Linked DNA regions of Homo sapiens: region 2 is linked to region 1. Evidence: fine-mapped expression QTL. Tissue or cell type: testis. Region 1 holds a variant in brackets; the other region holds the start of a gene. All regions are shown on one strand. Distances are from middle to middle.

Evidence for each region. PIP is the estimated chance that this variant, and not a neighbour inherited with it, causes the effect.
Region 2: it holds the start of KCNH5, and the variant in region 1 is fine-mapped to the expression of KCNH5 in testis (GTEx, PIP above 0.99).

The regions. Positions count from the first base shown.
Region 1 is chr14:62,704,510-62,712,618 of GRCh38, reverse strand. It overlaps KCNH5 (potassium voltage-gated channel subfamily H member 5), which reads left to right. Exons shown (of 11, transcript NM_139318.5): 11 at 4,164-8,109. The coding sequence ends at 5,111. Among named protein-coding and RNA genes, the nearest start is that of KCNH5, 340 kb to the left of the region's middle. RefSeq lists an enhancer at 1,154-1,323. The variant G/A (reference allele first, on the strand shown) is at 4,377.
Region 2 is chr14:63,040,787-63,048,895 of GRCh38, reverse strand. It overlaps KCNH5 (potassium voltage-gated channel subfamily H member 5), which reads left to right and starts at 3,438. Exons shown (of 11, transcript NM_139318.5): 1 at 3,438-3,782. The coding sequence starts at 3,710. RefSeq lists enhancers at 3,170-3,673, 3,674-4,177.

The sequences.
Region 1 (8,109 bases):
CACGGAGTCCAGGAGAAAGTATAAAAGTTACCTTGAGGAGCAGGAGAGTGGAATGGTTAAGACTGTTTGGAATCTGACCCCTTGGATTTGCATCCTGGACACACAGTTGTGTGACCTAAGGGAAACCACTTAAACTCTTTATGCCTCAATTTGCTTCTCTGTGATAAAAGAATAATATGACCTGTGTCCTACAGTAGAGAATAATAGGTCCTAGCTCGTAAAATGTTCTCATTCCATGACACTTAAATGAGAAAATACGTGTGTGGAAGTGACCACTTTGCTATATACAGATATTTTATTATCATTTTACAATGCCATTATTTTGTTCCATAGTCAAAAGTAAAATAAAACAAATGTCAATTTGTCTTATTCTAATCCTATAAAGTCAATTCAAACTAGTATTTTTTTTAAAAAAAACTACCTCTTAAAAACCTGGATATAATAAGTAGTTGACCAAATCCAAGTGTTACTGTTTGCGGTTAGGTGTCAGTTCCAATTGTATAGATTGGGTGATAAATCGCCTCATGACCCCCTCTTTCTAACCTTCCTCCTGCACCTGCTTCTCCTCTCACTGGGCTGCAGATTGTCAGCAGGCCCTGCTGCTAAGGAGAAAGGGGGATCTACTTCAGGACCTAGGGCTTGTGTCTGAGATCTGGAGGGCCTGTAGCCACTCCTCAGAGTGTTGGCTTTTGAGCTAGTCACGTCCAACTGCTGGCTCTCTTTATGTGTGGCATAATTGATGGCCTGAAAGTCCCTGGTGGCAGATCACCTACAGGGTGCAATAACCTTTCCCACCTCACACAGTGCTTTTGCCTTGCCTGGCTTCTAGCAGACTGAATTCACAAATGAGTACGTTCAGTGGCTTCCTGAGCTCTAGGGGATCCTAGCCAGTACCCCTCTGAGCTATAAAGGAAGTGAAGGGCAAGGAGCAAAGAGGGGAACTTTGGCTCTCTAAAGAGCATGTTTTTCCGCTGTGCATTGCTGGCTCCTGAGATTGGATGTGTAGGTCCTGCTGTTCTGCAAACTTGATGACAATTCAGGACCAGTCTTGTTGGTCATAAGTACCCTCAAACCTCAAGGGAGCTATGTTTAAAATTACTTAACTTCCTATCTCCCGGGCGTAAAAAGGGGGAAAGGAACAATGTGCAATACTCAGAATTCTGTCATCTAATGTACCAGAGCTCGATTCTTTCTCTTTCCCAGTTACTTTTACATTTCTCGACAGCAAAATACAGATCCAGCTCTGTCTCATTTGTCCCCTAGTATAGGTGAGAAATCAAGCCCTGTGCCAAGACCCCCTTTGCTCTATGTATTTTGGTATTTGGAGTCTTTGTTTCTAGCTAAATAGTAGCAATTCAAACACTTTTGTTTGTTCTTGGTTGGGGGTGGGTGGGGGGCAGCTGGTGGTCAAGGAAGCTGGGAAAGATTTATTTTATTGATATTTTACATGGACATGTTACAGTCTTACAACACAAAACACCCTGAACTTGGTAAGCACACAATAATTGCAAGCAATTATTAGCCATTATATTCAAAGATCTAAACAAATAAGGCTCTTGCCTAAGGTGCCCACAAATTCTCAGATGTCAGTAATACCAAATCTTTCATTATAGTCTCTGCATGGCAGGACATGTAGACATTACAAAATAGGAATGTCCTTGTCTATTATATACCAATAGGGTTGCCAAATTTAGCAAACAAAAATACAGGACTCCCAGGTAAAATTAAAATTTGAATAAACAAAGAATATTTGTTAAAGGATACATATGTCCAATTCAGATTTATAATGTCTGATGTTTTTAGTATGTCCCAAATATTGCACAGGGGACCTGCATTTTACCTGACCTTCCTGTGTGCCTACCACTTGTCACACTCCACTGACTTTGAAACGGTTCCATTTTCCCAAATGTGAAGGCTGCTCTCAGTTACCACATCGAGCCAACACTATGTCTATCCTAGGCTAAACAACCACCTTAAAAAAATAAAAAGGGTAAGTGGTGAGTGGGAAGGGGGATGTGGAAAATCATTCATATTAGGCCTCTCATGTCCACCCATAGAATCAAAGTGAGTACTTTTTCAAAAAGGGGCTGAAATAGGAAAATAGTATCTGCGTTCCTGTGTCTGGGTCTGTCTGGTTCTAAAGAATGTTCATATCTTGAAGACTTAGTACAACCTATGTTTACTTGGGAAGCATAAGAATTGTGTCAACCCTTTGAAAGACTTCTAATTAAACTGCTGGAGCTTTGATGTCAGAATTTGAGATTATTATTACATATTTTAAAAAGACCCAATTTCATGTGCCACTAACAAGAAAAAATATGTTGGCCTTTACAGACAGTTACTGAATTTATTTCAAAATACAAATTAGTACCACTCGATAAACTGAATTTAGTGCATCAATCTCATTTTAGAAAATGTACTCTTACCTGGAAGGGGAATTCCTATCTTTCTGGCTTTTCTGTTAACGGTGACCATCAGTAGTATTGGTTTTTGGTGTAAAATCAATGATTATATGTTACTCCAGGCAGCTGCTGAATATTCAAAAGATAGTAAATGGTTTCAGATAGGAGTATTTTATGAGAGTTCAAGGAGAGAGAACCAACGTATGCTGAGTGTCTGTTATGGGTTAGAGAACACGTGCTTCACATGTGTTTCTACTCTAACCAACAACCTACAGAGGGTGATCAAGGTAAGTTATTTTCCTTGAGTGATAAAATTGTCTGATTCTGAAAGTGCCTTATCTAATATAACTCTTTTTTGATTTTCCTTACAGCCTTCACCTGCAGTTACTTTGCTTTTCAGGACTCTGAGCAAAAATCTCACACTTATTAACTTTACTTCCAACTCTGATAATATATGTGGCAATTTCTTATATAGCCAACATTTTTTATTTCTTCTGATGGGGTTATCATAAGTTCTTCCCATTATTATCTTCAAAATACATTTTAAATAAAATGATGCTCATTTATTTGTGGATATCTAACCCCTCACCTGTACTATGTATTTAATTTTATGTTTAAAATGTAAAGAATCTGGGAAATTGAAGAGTTCAACCTCCAACCCAGTGAACATGTCATATGGAAAACATACTTCTATCTTAACCTTTTAGTGGTAGAACGATCATGAGTTTTCGAGGCAGTTTATTCAATAGAGAGCAGTTTGCAATGAAGTCTGTGTACTAAGCTGGTGTTACCTCCCGGAAACTTTTCCTCACAAATTCTAGTTCTGCCTTCTAGGGTCGCATAAATCAATTTAAATTCTCCCCTCACCCAACCCAGATGCCATTTGCTAAACTGTGTAAGTTTTCAGTACACTTATAGCCTGGAATTCTTACTATCTGATACCCAAACAGAGGATAATTTTTTTTTTTTTTTTTTTTTTTTTTTGAGAAGGAGTCTCGTTCTGTCGCCCAGGCGGGAGTGCTGTGGCGCGATCTCCGCTCACTGCAAGCTCCGCCTTCCGGGTTCACGCCATTCTCCTGCCTCAGCCTCCCGAGTAGCTGGGACTACAGGCGCCCGCCACTGCGCCCGGCTAATTTTTTGTATTTTTAGTAGAGACGGGGTTTCACCGTGGTCTCGATCTCCTGACCTCGTGGTCCGCCCGCCTCGGCCTCCCAAAGTGCTGGGATTACAGGCGTGAGCCGCCGCGCCCGGCCAACAGAGGATAATATTAAAAATGGTTTTGAAACTTATTTCTACACAATAAGGAAAATCATACAAAAGTGGCAATTCATTACAGAGAAATTTAAGGGATAAATATGTATTTCCTTATATATGTATACACATATATACATATACAAATATGTATGTGTGTATGTATGTGTGTATTTCCTACTAACGGCAATATAAGGGGAACATAAACTAGAAGCAAAGTACCTCTCTATTCAGTTGTCTCTTGAGTAATTCTCCCTCTGATATGTAGGGGACTAGAACTAAGTAAGTAAGTAGCCAACATTTCTATGTTGGGTTTAAGCCATATTGCATCCATAAATTTCATAAATGCAATTCCATAAATGGTATTTAAATTTTTTTTTCTTGAGAAATAATCTTATCAAATATTCAAGGGTTTTCTTTGTAACACAAAGCACATACAGCATAGTATTATACAACTGTTAATCCATCTGCTTTTATAATCAGGCTGTGACTATCTCTCCCGTTCCACAGATCATCTTTCGTAAGATCAGTGATGTGAAGAAAGAGGAGGAGGAGCGCCTCCGGCAGAAGAATGAGGTGACCCTCAGCATTCCCGTGGACCACCCAGTCAGAAAGCTCTTCCAGAAGTTCAAGCAGCAGAAGGAGCTGCGGAATCAGGGCTCAACACAGGGTGACCCTGAGAGGAACCAACTCCAGGTAGAGAGCCGCTCCTTACAGAATGGA[G/A]CCTCCATCACCGGAACCAGCGTGGTGACTGTGTCACAGATTACTCCCATTCAGACGTCTCTGGCCTATGTGAAAACCAGTGAATCCCTTAAGCAGAACAACCGTGATGCCATGGAACTCAAGCCCAACGGCGGTGCTGACCAAAAATGTCTCAAAGTCAACAGCCCAATAAGAATGAAGAATGGAAATGGAAAAGGGTGGCTGCGACTCAAGAATAATATGGGAGCCCATGAGGAGAAAAAGGAAGACTGGAATAATGTCACTAAAGCTGAGTCAATGGGGCTATTGTCTGAGGACCCCAAGAGCAGTGATTCAGAGAACAGTGTGACCAAAAACCCACTAAGAAAAACAGATTCTTGTGACAGTGGAATTACAAAAAGTGACCTTCGTTTGGATAAGGCTGGGGAGGCCCGAAGTCCGCTAGAGCACAGTCCCATCCAGGCTGATGCCAAGCACCCCTTTTATCCCATCCCCGAGCAGGCCTTACAGACCACACTGCAGGAAGTCAAACACGAACTCAAAGAGGACATCCAGCTGCTCAGCTGCAGAATGACTGCCCTAGAAAAGCAGGTGGCAGAAATTTTAAAAATACTGTCGGAAAAAAGCGTACCCCAGGCCTCATCTCCCAAATCCCAAATGCCACTCCAAGTACCCCCCCAGATACCATGTCAGGATATTTTTAGTGTCTCAAGGCCTGAATCACCTGAATCTGACAAAGATGAAATCCACTTTTAATATATATACATATATATTTGTTAATATATTAAAACAGTATATACATATGTGTGTATATACAGTATATACATATATATATTTTCACTTGCTTTCAAGATGATGACCACACATGGATTTTGATATGTAAATATTGCATGTCCAGCTGGATTCTGGCCTGCCAAAGAAGATGATGATTAAAAACATAGATATTGCTTGTATATTATGCAGTTGACTGCATGCACACTTTACATTTATTTATAATCTCTATTCTATAATAAAAGAGTATGATTTTTGTTACCCAAGGCAATGTAATATTTGAAGAATCAGGGTCCAACCTGCCAATGTTGCCATGACAAATTTGATCTCAGGCTGAGTATGTATATCGAGCTATCATTTTCTCACTGTTCTGTTAAGTTAAAAGTATAGATTAATGCCAAGGAAGAGTTCAGTCTTTTAAACTATTAGTACCATGTTATGATCTCTTTCCATAGGATATTTTTCTGTAACTTAGTGTTAGGTTCTTTTCCCCTACAGGCAGTGTTTGCTCCATTTAAATGACTGTTTAGTTGCCTAAGTCAGATAAGAGTGTGGGATATTGAAAACTTATTGCTATGGGTTTTGTGCATGAATTACATTTTTGATCAACTATACCTCTCGTTTTTTAACATTATACTTAGATAGTAATCATTAGCTCTTATGTAAGGAAATCCCTACTCCCTCCTTCTTGGAGAACAGCTGCCATCTTGTAAGCTGACATTATCAACATCATAAATACTAAACTATTAATATAGAGTATGTTATTATAGAAACACTGCACCACAGGGTATAAGGGCCTTTTGACAATTCATGTAAGAGATGCTGAATTTCCAAAGCTGATAAATGCTCTAAATTTGTATTTCCAAAACATGTTCAAGAGTGACATTGAAAGGCTTGTTAGCAAAGAAACATACAAAAAATAAAGCATTTAAGTAATCATATCAAAATGCTAACTATTATGGTATAAAATAAAAAAGAATGTAAACAGATAGATAAATTTTTGTGGCATGTATATAACTTAGAAAGAATGAAACACTGGTACGGATTGTTGACACATGAATCCTAGTGTTTGTAGTGATAACACATGAAATGTGGTAAAACAAACAAACCAACCAACCAAGAAGTAGACATTAAGTTGCTCGACTCAGATAACTGCTTTTCTATCATTTTATTGTGGTTATAGTTTTTTAAAGCTTTTTGCACACAGTTCTACTGCTGGACTTCTGCTGAGTTGATTCAATAAGCTATTGTGGCTCAGGCAGGTCCATTTGTGAAAGGGGGATACTAAAGACTGAATTTTAGTCTTTTGAATTCAAATCCTCTTTGTAGAAAGTGCCTATTATCAAGTTTTTAAAAAAAGTCACAAAGAGTTGTCCTGTATATAGCTAGTCCCTTAAATGATAAGGATTGAGAATAAAATACACATTCACTTGTAAGAACCCAGGAGAACTTATTTCTTTTGACTAAACTGTATTTTAGGAAGTCGTTCAGGGAAGCATACTTTTCAGTCAGTGCATGCACAGCATTTAATATGGGGAGCAGGGGAGTTAGTGTTTGCATGAAGTTGAAAAAAATGTGTGAGTAATTTATATATTACGGGACCATCTGTACATATATGTTAACAATATGCAAAAGATGATGGCAAAATCGAAGGAGATATCTTGATCTATTATACCCATTTGTATGAGCTTTTCTATCTCCCAGTATTCCCAACCAAAGCCACTAGAACTGAAAGACATGTTATCACATTCAGACTTGAGAAGTGCAAAACAGTGATTTATAAAAACAGTTGCTATTTTAGAATTTCTATTGAACTTCACATGCCCACAAGATGTGCCTCTTTAATCTAGGAGTCTCAAAACATATGAGCCATGGGCTCCATTTTCCTTTCTTTATGCGTATAACTTCCATTAACCATAATGGAAGTTTTCAGGGGAACACGTCTCCATGTAATGCTACAATATCTACCTACCACAAACACAAGAAAATGAAATAATTATGGAGTAAAGAATCAGCCTTGAAATTGGAATTTTGTTGCTTTCATGGTGAGGATGATATCTTTTTCGTGACCTCTGACATTTATTGAATTTCAGGGTATTTTTCTATTTGTTTAAGTCAAGTTTGGCTTAAGCTTTTAAAGGTGAATGTGTGGTTAAAATAAGAATCTGATTATAGAAGTTGTTAGTTTAACTTTAGCCAGTGCTTCAAAACTAACTATTGGTGTAAAGCTATAAAAGAATGACTGTGAACAACATGATGATTTGAAGTTCTAATTCATGGCTTTGCATATTAGTGGTGCAAATATTTACTGTGTTCTGACATTGACGTAGAGTTTCACCTAATCGACCTACAATGTTATTGTTCATATATGTGAGAAACATAATGGTTTTGAATTACTCCAGATTGTTAGGAAGGAGGGAAAGTATCAATTGTTTAATTATGGTGCAGTTATCATAGTGTCTTTTCAGCCATCTCTGTTCTCTGTGTGCATGATATGAAGAGGTGCTGAATGCACCCTGCTGTTTTCAGCAGGAATGCATGTTTTCAGCAAACATTGTATATAGAGTAGTCTTTTAGGTTCCCAGATTCCACAAATCTTAGCAGTTGAATTTACTCAGATTTGAATGAAGGGAGAATATTTGCTTTAATACATGCAATAATGATAAAATCATGTTCTATGTTGCCTCAACTAGCACATAGACAGTAGATGCTCTTTTGAGGACCAGATAACTGCATGTTTTATTCCTACACTGTATAGATGCTCTTGGTGCATCCAGAATAAAAATTTTAATATTATATTTCTAAATAATATATTAATAGGAGTAAATGGATATGTATTAGAAATCCAAACATTTTCCAAAGCAATTTACACACCTTCAATATTTTTCTATGATGTTATTAATAGGTAAGATCAGATGCTGTATCCTCGACAGGTGGTTGTAACAAAATAGCAAAAGTCAAATTAGAATGGAAATGTGAGTGA
Region 2 (8,109 bases), 340 kb before region 1:
TTTAGGAGTCAGTGAACACTTCTGGGGATTGGAATTCTTGGTTATCACAGACAAGGTCTAATTACCATACCTGGAGGGACAGAAGAAAAGAACAAATGATTCTGTTTTAAAATGGACTTTTGACAATATAACAAAACGAAGCTTTGTCTTTGTGTGACATTGAAGCTTTCTAATTCCTATCTCTCTCATCTGTTAAATCTTGAGGTTTGTTCCCCACATACGGAGTCTGTAACACACTTTTAAAATGCTGTATTAGCACCTTGTTGCAACTGGCCAGCATATTCCTTAGGGCCAGTCAATCTATATGATGCTGCTACTCTATTTTCCTTGACTCTATTTTGATTGGGAACAGTTGCAAGTTGTTGCCAAGGGTTTCTCTTCTTTCATGGGCTGCAAAATCATCGATGGCAATAGAGATCCTTGATGTTGCTGGTTGTTACCACACTAGCCTAAGATTAGGTTATTTTCTATTATTTACAAGGAGCTCTGGCTACAGGGTCAGGAGACCTGATTTTAGTCTCAGTGCAGACTGTTCTAAAGCACTGTGTCATCTGGGACAGGATATTTCATCTCTCTGGGTCTTGGTTTCTTCCTTTATAAAATGAAAATTTAAACTAGAAGATTAAGAAAAGTGTGTAACCTTTTGACACTACACAGCTACATTTTTTATGATCATTAAAATAATCCAAACGTTATAATGCTATGGAGTTATTAGAAACAAAGAAGAAAGGATAAATGTCATTTAATTGAATCTGCAGATGGGAATAAGAAAGTTCTACCAGTAATTTTGTGATTGTGTCTTAATGGAGTCCAAAAGAATTTCCTCTTTGGGAAATGTGAGTTAATACACCCACAGAGGAATGATTAGGAACAAGAATATATATACTAGATGGGAAATGCTGAGAACCTGAGATTTTAAATCAATACCCATAGGCGAGATGTGGGCAGCTGACGATGTGCAAAAGAACATATAGATTTGAAATATTCTCTGTTAATGATGATGGAATTATTATAGCATGCTAGAAGTCTAGAATAGCAATCAATGAATTATACATGTTTAAAAAATAAGTCTGTCTATTCACCAACCCAGCCAATGAATGACTGATTAGTTTAGGATCATTTGAACACAGGTCACAAAAGAATCGCTAGAGTGGGAAATTCAATTATGTGTTTAAGGCTGCTGTGGTGATGGTGGTTTCAGTTCTTCCCACCAACTGCAGGGAGGGAGTTGTAACCTGGCCGTATCTCTTGAGTGCTGCTGTGGCAAGCTCACTACGGATCCAATCTGCACCTGAGTCTCTTGTTATTTAACTAAACACACCTGATGTATTTAAAAGACATTTTAACTGTAAGGGGATAAGCTCCATGGCCAGCAGCACTTCCTGTGGAAAGCTAGAATAGCCTAGTGTTATTCCACCGAGTCTCTTGATTTTTTTTTTTTTTTTTTTGCATAAAGATTTTTAGCGGAATAAAATTGCCTCGTGTCAACCTTCTGGGTTTGCTCAGCTGCCTGGTCTCTGAAAATTTCAGAGAGGGAAAAAATGACCCCAAGGTAAAGGCTGGATCCTGGTTTTGCATTTAGCTGCTTCAAGCAGTAGGCTTACCCAGTTGGGGAGAGGAGAGAAAGGGAGAGAGAGGTGGGGGGAGAGAGAGAGGTGGGAAGAGAGAGAAAGGGGAGAGAGAAGGGGAGAGAGAGAGGGAGGGGAGGGGAGGGGAGGGGAGGGGAGGGGAGGCAAGGAGGGAGAGAGAGAGAGACAGAGACAGACAGAGAGAGAGAGATCCTGTCTTGAGGTCAGTGATTAGTAATCTAGGGGGTTCCAAAAGGGGACAGGTGCTGAGATGTGTACTTCCACCCCTGCCTGGGGATTCTCCCTGCTTCTGGTAATCTGACCTTGATAATTTCTAACGCAATTACCTCTCCTCTAGCACATTCTGACCCCAGCAAAAGGGGACGCACCCATCCAACTATCTTTTCGCCTTCAACACTGAAGACTTCGCTCTACCACCAACCGCTGACGCCGCGGCAGTGCACTTTTGGTCCCCCACTCTTTGACCCTGTTTGCACAATCGTCCTTTCTCGACAGGCCCAGGTGCAGCCCCCAGAGAAAAGAGGAAGCCTTACATGTATCATATTTACCTGGAGGGCTTGTTTAAACAGATGAGTCAACCCAATCCTCAGAGTTCCTGGTTCCCTAACTCTGGGGTAGAATCCACTAATTTGCATTATAAACAAGTTCTTAGGTGGTGCAGATGCGGATGCTGCCCGTCCAGGCCACTTTGAGAACCACTGCCTTAGATCAAGGAAGGTGCCTCAGTGCGGGCTCCTCTTTCCTTTCCATCTCTCTCCACCCCTTTCGCATTTATGCCATTTTCCTTTCTCTGTGACACATTCAGGCTTTTGGACTGTTTGTAACGGTGCCGCTGCTGTCCGTTCTCAACGCCTGGAAATTGGGGGGTTTGTTAGAGGTGATTCGTGCCCTGCTCCACCCTGGCGCATCTTCGCCCCCACAGCCTTTACCGTTTTTCCATCGCTAACACTGCCCTCCTCACTCCCCCTCTCTCGGGTGTGAATTATTCACCCTCTTCCCCTACTCTTCACATCAAGTGCAACCTTTCCCGCAACTTTGCAGCGGTGGCGGGCTCGCGGATCGCCTCCTGCGCTCAGCGGTCCTGGGGGAAACTCCCCTGGGCGGCCGCACGCTCCCCCAGACGCCAAGCCCGGCCCGGGTCGCAGGGGCCATTCCGGGCGCCGGCTGTGCGCTCGGACTTCAGGGCTCGCGCTCCCGCTCCGGGGTGGGGTAAGGGCGGTGCGGAAAGCGCCAGTGTTCAGGAAGGTTTCAGGCGCCGGAGCCCGGAGGGGGGCGGTAGCAGCGTCAGGTGGCTGCTCTGCGTCCCCGCGCGCCGCCCAGCCAGTCCCTGCCCTGCTCTCAGCCTCGGCTGGGGCTGGAGCTGGAGCCTGCCCGCACCTCCGCCCCGGGAGCCGCGTCCGCGCCAGCAGCCCGGATTCGGGACCCGAGCGGGAGACGCCGAGATGTGAGCCTCCGACTGGCCACTGCTCTCTCTGGCACCCTCTTCTCCCATTCCACCGGCCCGATTGGACAGCGATCGCTTGCCTCGATCTCCGGGGAGAGGAGCAACCACCAGGCGCACAGCCCAGAAGTTGGGCTACGCTGTTCAGCCCGGAGCTCGCTGCGCGAGGGGGTGGACGAGGAGACCGGGAGACGAAGGCGCGGGGAAGGGGTCTCGGTCTGAGCTGAGGGGGATTGGGAGGGTGGGGGCTTGAGTTCCCGCTTGCGCTCCCCAGCAGGGGGAGAGATGCAGAGCCCGCGCCCAGGCGCCGGCCGCCGCGGTAGCAGCCTCAGCAGCAGCCTCAGCATCAGCACCGGCGGGACAGCGACAGCGGGGGCGGCGCAGGCGCACTGTGCCCCGCGGAGCCTGCAGTTCCCGAGCCCCGTGTGCGGCACCGCCACAGTCTGGGCAGCGGCGGCCGGGGGAGCGCTACTACCATGAACTGCCTGGTCCTCCTCCCCAGAGCTGCTCATCCGGGTCGGGCTGGAGACACAGTCAGGGGACCCCGTCGCCGCCGCCGCGCCCCCTCTTCTTTCGGCTCAATCTTCTCTTCCACCTTTTCCTCCTCTTCCTCCACCTTCTTTGCCTGCATCCCCCCCTCCCCCGCCGCGGATCCTGGCCGCTGCTCTCCAGACCCAGGATGCCGGGGGGCAAGAGAGGGCTGGTGGCACCGCAGAACACATTTTTGGAGAACATCGTCAGGCGCTCCAGTGGTAAGGAGAGTTGTAGTTCAGAACACCCCCACCTCCATCCCGCCCACACGCGCCCCCCATCCTCCCCATCCCATCCCTCTCCCAAGGGGGGAGGAGGATGCAGGCAGCCTTACCTGGTGGTTTCATTTACCAGTTGGGCTGGATTTGGGGTGGGGTGGGGTGGCAATGAGATGGTGGGGGAAAGTTAGTTGCATCCCCTTCCTACCAGACAGACTCACCCCCTCCCACCTGTCCAGAGCCCAGAACTGGAGGAAAGAAAGGGGTTGGATAGGGTGTAGGTACATCTGGAACATAGAGTTGAGTTTTGCTTTTATCTTTCTTGTTCTTCCTTCTCCCACATTTTTCCCCAAAGTGAGCAGCAGGGACTGACCAAATTCTGAGTTAATCTCAGTGGAAAGGTTTCCCTCAAGTTGGGAATGGCTGCGAAAGTGGCTACTTAACAAGATTTAAATCTCTGGAAAGGCTTTTGGCCCTCGTGGTCACGGGGAAAGGTGCTTTGTGCCGGGGAGAGTAGTTGAGGTTGAACCTAAGAAAGAGTTCAGTGCTTGCAAAATGGGAAGCCAATTACTGTGGACAAATTGGTGCTTCAAGTTTCTTCTTGCTATGTTTTTCACTGTACATTCATCTATATATTTCGTTTGACTTAAACATGAGAAACGTAGAAGTGAAGCAGTAACTATTGTGCTTTTAATGCAACTAGAAAAAAATCAAAAAGATGCCATCCTACCTTGCTACTGGCGTTAAAGTTTTCTTGCCTTAGTGTGTCTTTAAAATACCATCCATTTATACATTCATTTCCTACAAGATATTTTGGATGGGAATGGTTATATATTTCCACATTTTAAGACCTTATAAACTTTGCATCTTACTGAAATCTGCGTTTTCTACTTGTTTTTAATTCTTTTGTATAATTTTAAACTTCATAAGTAAGATATGTTGAATATCTTTTTAAGTTTTTCCTTCAGAGGCTGTTATTTTGACATCTCTTGCTTGGAGAATAATGAGAAAGACATTTCTGTATATGGAGTACAGTAGAGCTTGGAACAAAGCAATGGAAATACTCTATGCAGTTCCATAGTGCCTTGTTTATTCATTCATTGAAACAATATTTATTTGGGTGCCTTATACCACAGATACTCTGTGGTTTCTTGGGATTAAAAAAAAGTAATTAATACACATCCCCTCTTCTTAAGAGGCTCCTTGCCTAGTTGGAGGCACAGGGAAAGACAGAGGTACACTGAAATATCAAATAATTAAATAAATAATGCTTTCCCTAAATGGTAGATTAGATTATACTAATTCTTAGATTAGAATCTCTTTTAAGACTAGGCTTGTAAATATTTCCTCTGATTTTGAGACTAACTGTATTTAAGTGTTTCAAAGTATTTTCCCCAAATATCTGACTTGTTATTTGTTTTTAATTTGAGGTTTTAAACTTTATTTCTTCGTTTTGGCCAATGCCTGAAACAATAAAAGTCTAAAGCAGTAGTGTTGTATTTGGGTCGGAAAAAATAGCGAATAGGGTCTGGCCTAATATTCTTTTAAATACCTGTATATTTTTTAGTTATATAAATTCATAATGGTAGGCAATTTTTATTCTTATAGATTACCTTCTTGTATTAAGATTATACTAAACCTATAATACAAGGGGATATTACTCTTAAAACAGTTTGGGGAAAATGTGTGGATTATTGGAATTAGTTAAGTATACAAGTCTTCTTTCAGCTTTCTCATCCTCTTGGGTTATTTCAACTTCACGCAATTTGGTCTATGAGAGAACTTTTCAGAGAAGGCCTTAAAACATAAAATCTGCAGGGTTACGATTGCTCTGCTTTATAAAGAGAAAGAACATGAGAATCCCTTGACTAAACTTTATTAATATAGCAACTGTGGTTGAAGCTTCTTATGCAGACTATGAAACTATGAGATAGTTTTTTGAATTTTTAAAAATTGTAGATATACTATGAAATAAAGATTTACCTTAGGTGGCTTAGAAATGTCTGTTTCTGTTGCCTCCATTTTGTATCTACCACTCAAATTAATGAGTATTTTATCTTTTTTACACTTCATGTTCATAATCGTTTCATTGGTTAAATGTTTCTTTCCTGGACAATACCAAGTGAAAATGAAAATTTATCTGTTTTGGCACTTAAATGCCACCTCTAATCGCCTATGGCTAACTTTGAATACCACTACTCAAAGACCCTGAACTGTTTGAAGTGTGTTAGATAGTTGTAGTGAGTATATATGCAGGTGTGTGTGATAAATACTGAAAAGTCTCAGTACCTCTTTTATAGGCAGAACCTCAGAAATTGAGAATTATGGTATTAAATTGGTCTACACATTCACGGGGGAATATCCCGCAGTTGTCATTTCTATATGATTTGGCAGAGAAATAGAAAAATTTATCCTGAGAAATTGTTTAATTGAGACTAATAGAAAATTCCCTTCAGGATTCTCACAGATGGATCAGGTTTGTCACTTTGAAGGTTTCATTATTCACTAACTTAACAACATTGAAAGTGAAGTGTTGGCAGAGGTTTAGCAGGAAGAGAAAGAATAGCACCCAGCACTCCCAATCTATTTAACAATTGAAGAAACAGAGGCTGGCCTTGTCTTTTTACCTGAACCCCAAGAAAAGCTCTTTCTGATACAATACCATTTTCTTCTTATGAAAAGGTCAGATCTTACAGTGAGAGTCAGCCAAACATAGACATAGATATAGAGAGATACCCAGATAATACACAGTCACATAGGTAAACACTCAGCTGGTCAGGCATCCACCCAGAAAACTGAAAAGAGGAATATCCTACTTCTTCTTTTTTAGGATTTGTCTGTAAAGTGTGTCCACCACCCTACAGACAGAGAGGAAGCAATCTAACTCTTTTTCTCTGTCTTGCACACAAGGAGCAAAACAGAGATGTAGGAAACAAAACAAAACAAAACACACAGAGCAGAGAGAAAGGGGTGGGGTGGGAGAGAGAGAGAGAGAGATTATGGGACATGCAAGGGAAATGGACACAAAGAGAAAATGTCAGACATTTATTTGTCCATGGGTATCACCAATGAACTGAAATCTCAGCCAGTTACAAATTTACCAGAACATTTTTTTGATGATGTGAAACAAAAAAGCAAGAAGTGTGGCATATTTGAATATCAATTTTATACCTGAGGATTTCTTAATAAAGTTCCAAACTCCTCAGATGCAGTTTCCCAGAATACCAGCACTGTATTCTGTACTCCAGAGTGGCAACTATAACCTATGCTATTATTTCACACCTCTTGAGACTGGATTTTTATTTTCCTTATTTAGTTGACTCAGTCTGTTATAAGCGAGCATTGCAAGTTGTTACTGGTGATTCAAAGTCTATAAAATAAAATAATGAGGGCCATTGAGTAGGATGGATACACACACCCTTTATAGCCAAATCTCAAAAGAAGCAAGGAATTCTTTTTAGTTTAAAGATAAAAGATAAGATCATTTCTAGACAAAAGGAATTATAATAATTCTTAGCATGTGATTCTAGTAAATATAGAGAACATTATTACTCTAAGAAGTTGTAAAGTTTAAAGTATAAATGCTATAGGACGGCTTAGACAAACTTTTGGCTAGTACGATCAAAATAAGCCATTAGTAAGGGAAGGTTTAGAGGACTATGTGGTGAGTTCATTACAGCTGAGCAATGTCTCCCAGAAGGCCCCTGCCTCAAGGGCTTACAGACTAGATTTGTGTCTAGAACATTATTAGGATACCTTCCTTTATTTAAATTTCAATTATTTATGCAAACTATTAATCTAAATTGGGCTCTAGGGAGCAATAAACTTGTGGGTAGAGGTTAAGTATCTGGAAGAAAGTAACTGTTTTTAGGACTTTTAGGTTAAAATTTAGATTCAAAAGACAAAAAATATTTCAAAGACCTTCAACCTGATTTTGTCTTTGGGCAGCACATTTTACTCATATGTTGTCTTCAATTCCTTAGCAAATAGGCAGACATGATTAGTTTGAGTGACAGTAAGCTAGGTTGCTATTTTGAAAATTTTAACTACAAATTAATACCTTTTAACTAGAAATTATTATTATTTAATATTTTAAGCTTTATGACAAATTGGAAGTTTATTTTAGTTTTGTGGAAAACTAGAAGTGTTTTTCTTTTTGGGGAAAAAAGGGGTTCAGGAAAGAAGAAAACAGAGAAGGTAGTATTTTATGAACCACTTACCTTTCAAGAGAAGAAACTCAGTATCCTCAATTTTTCATTCTGCTTGAGATAGCTGGTTGCACAAGCACTTTTTTTACTCAGCTATCTCTTACTTGTAGAAAAGTCCAAAA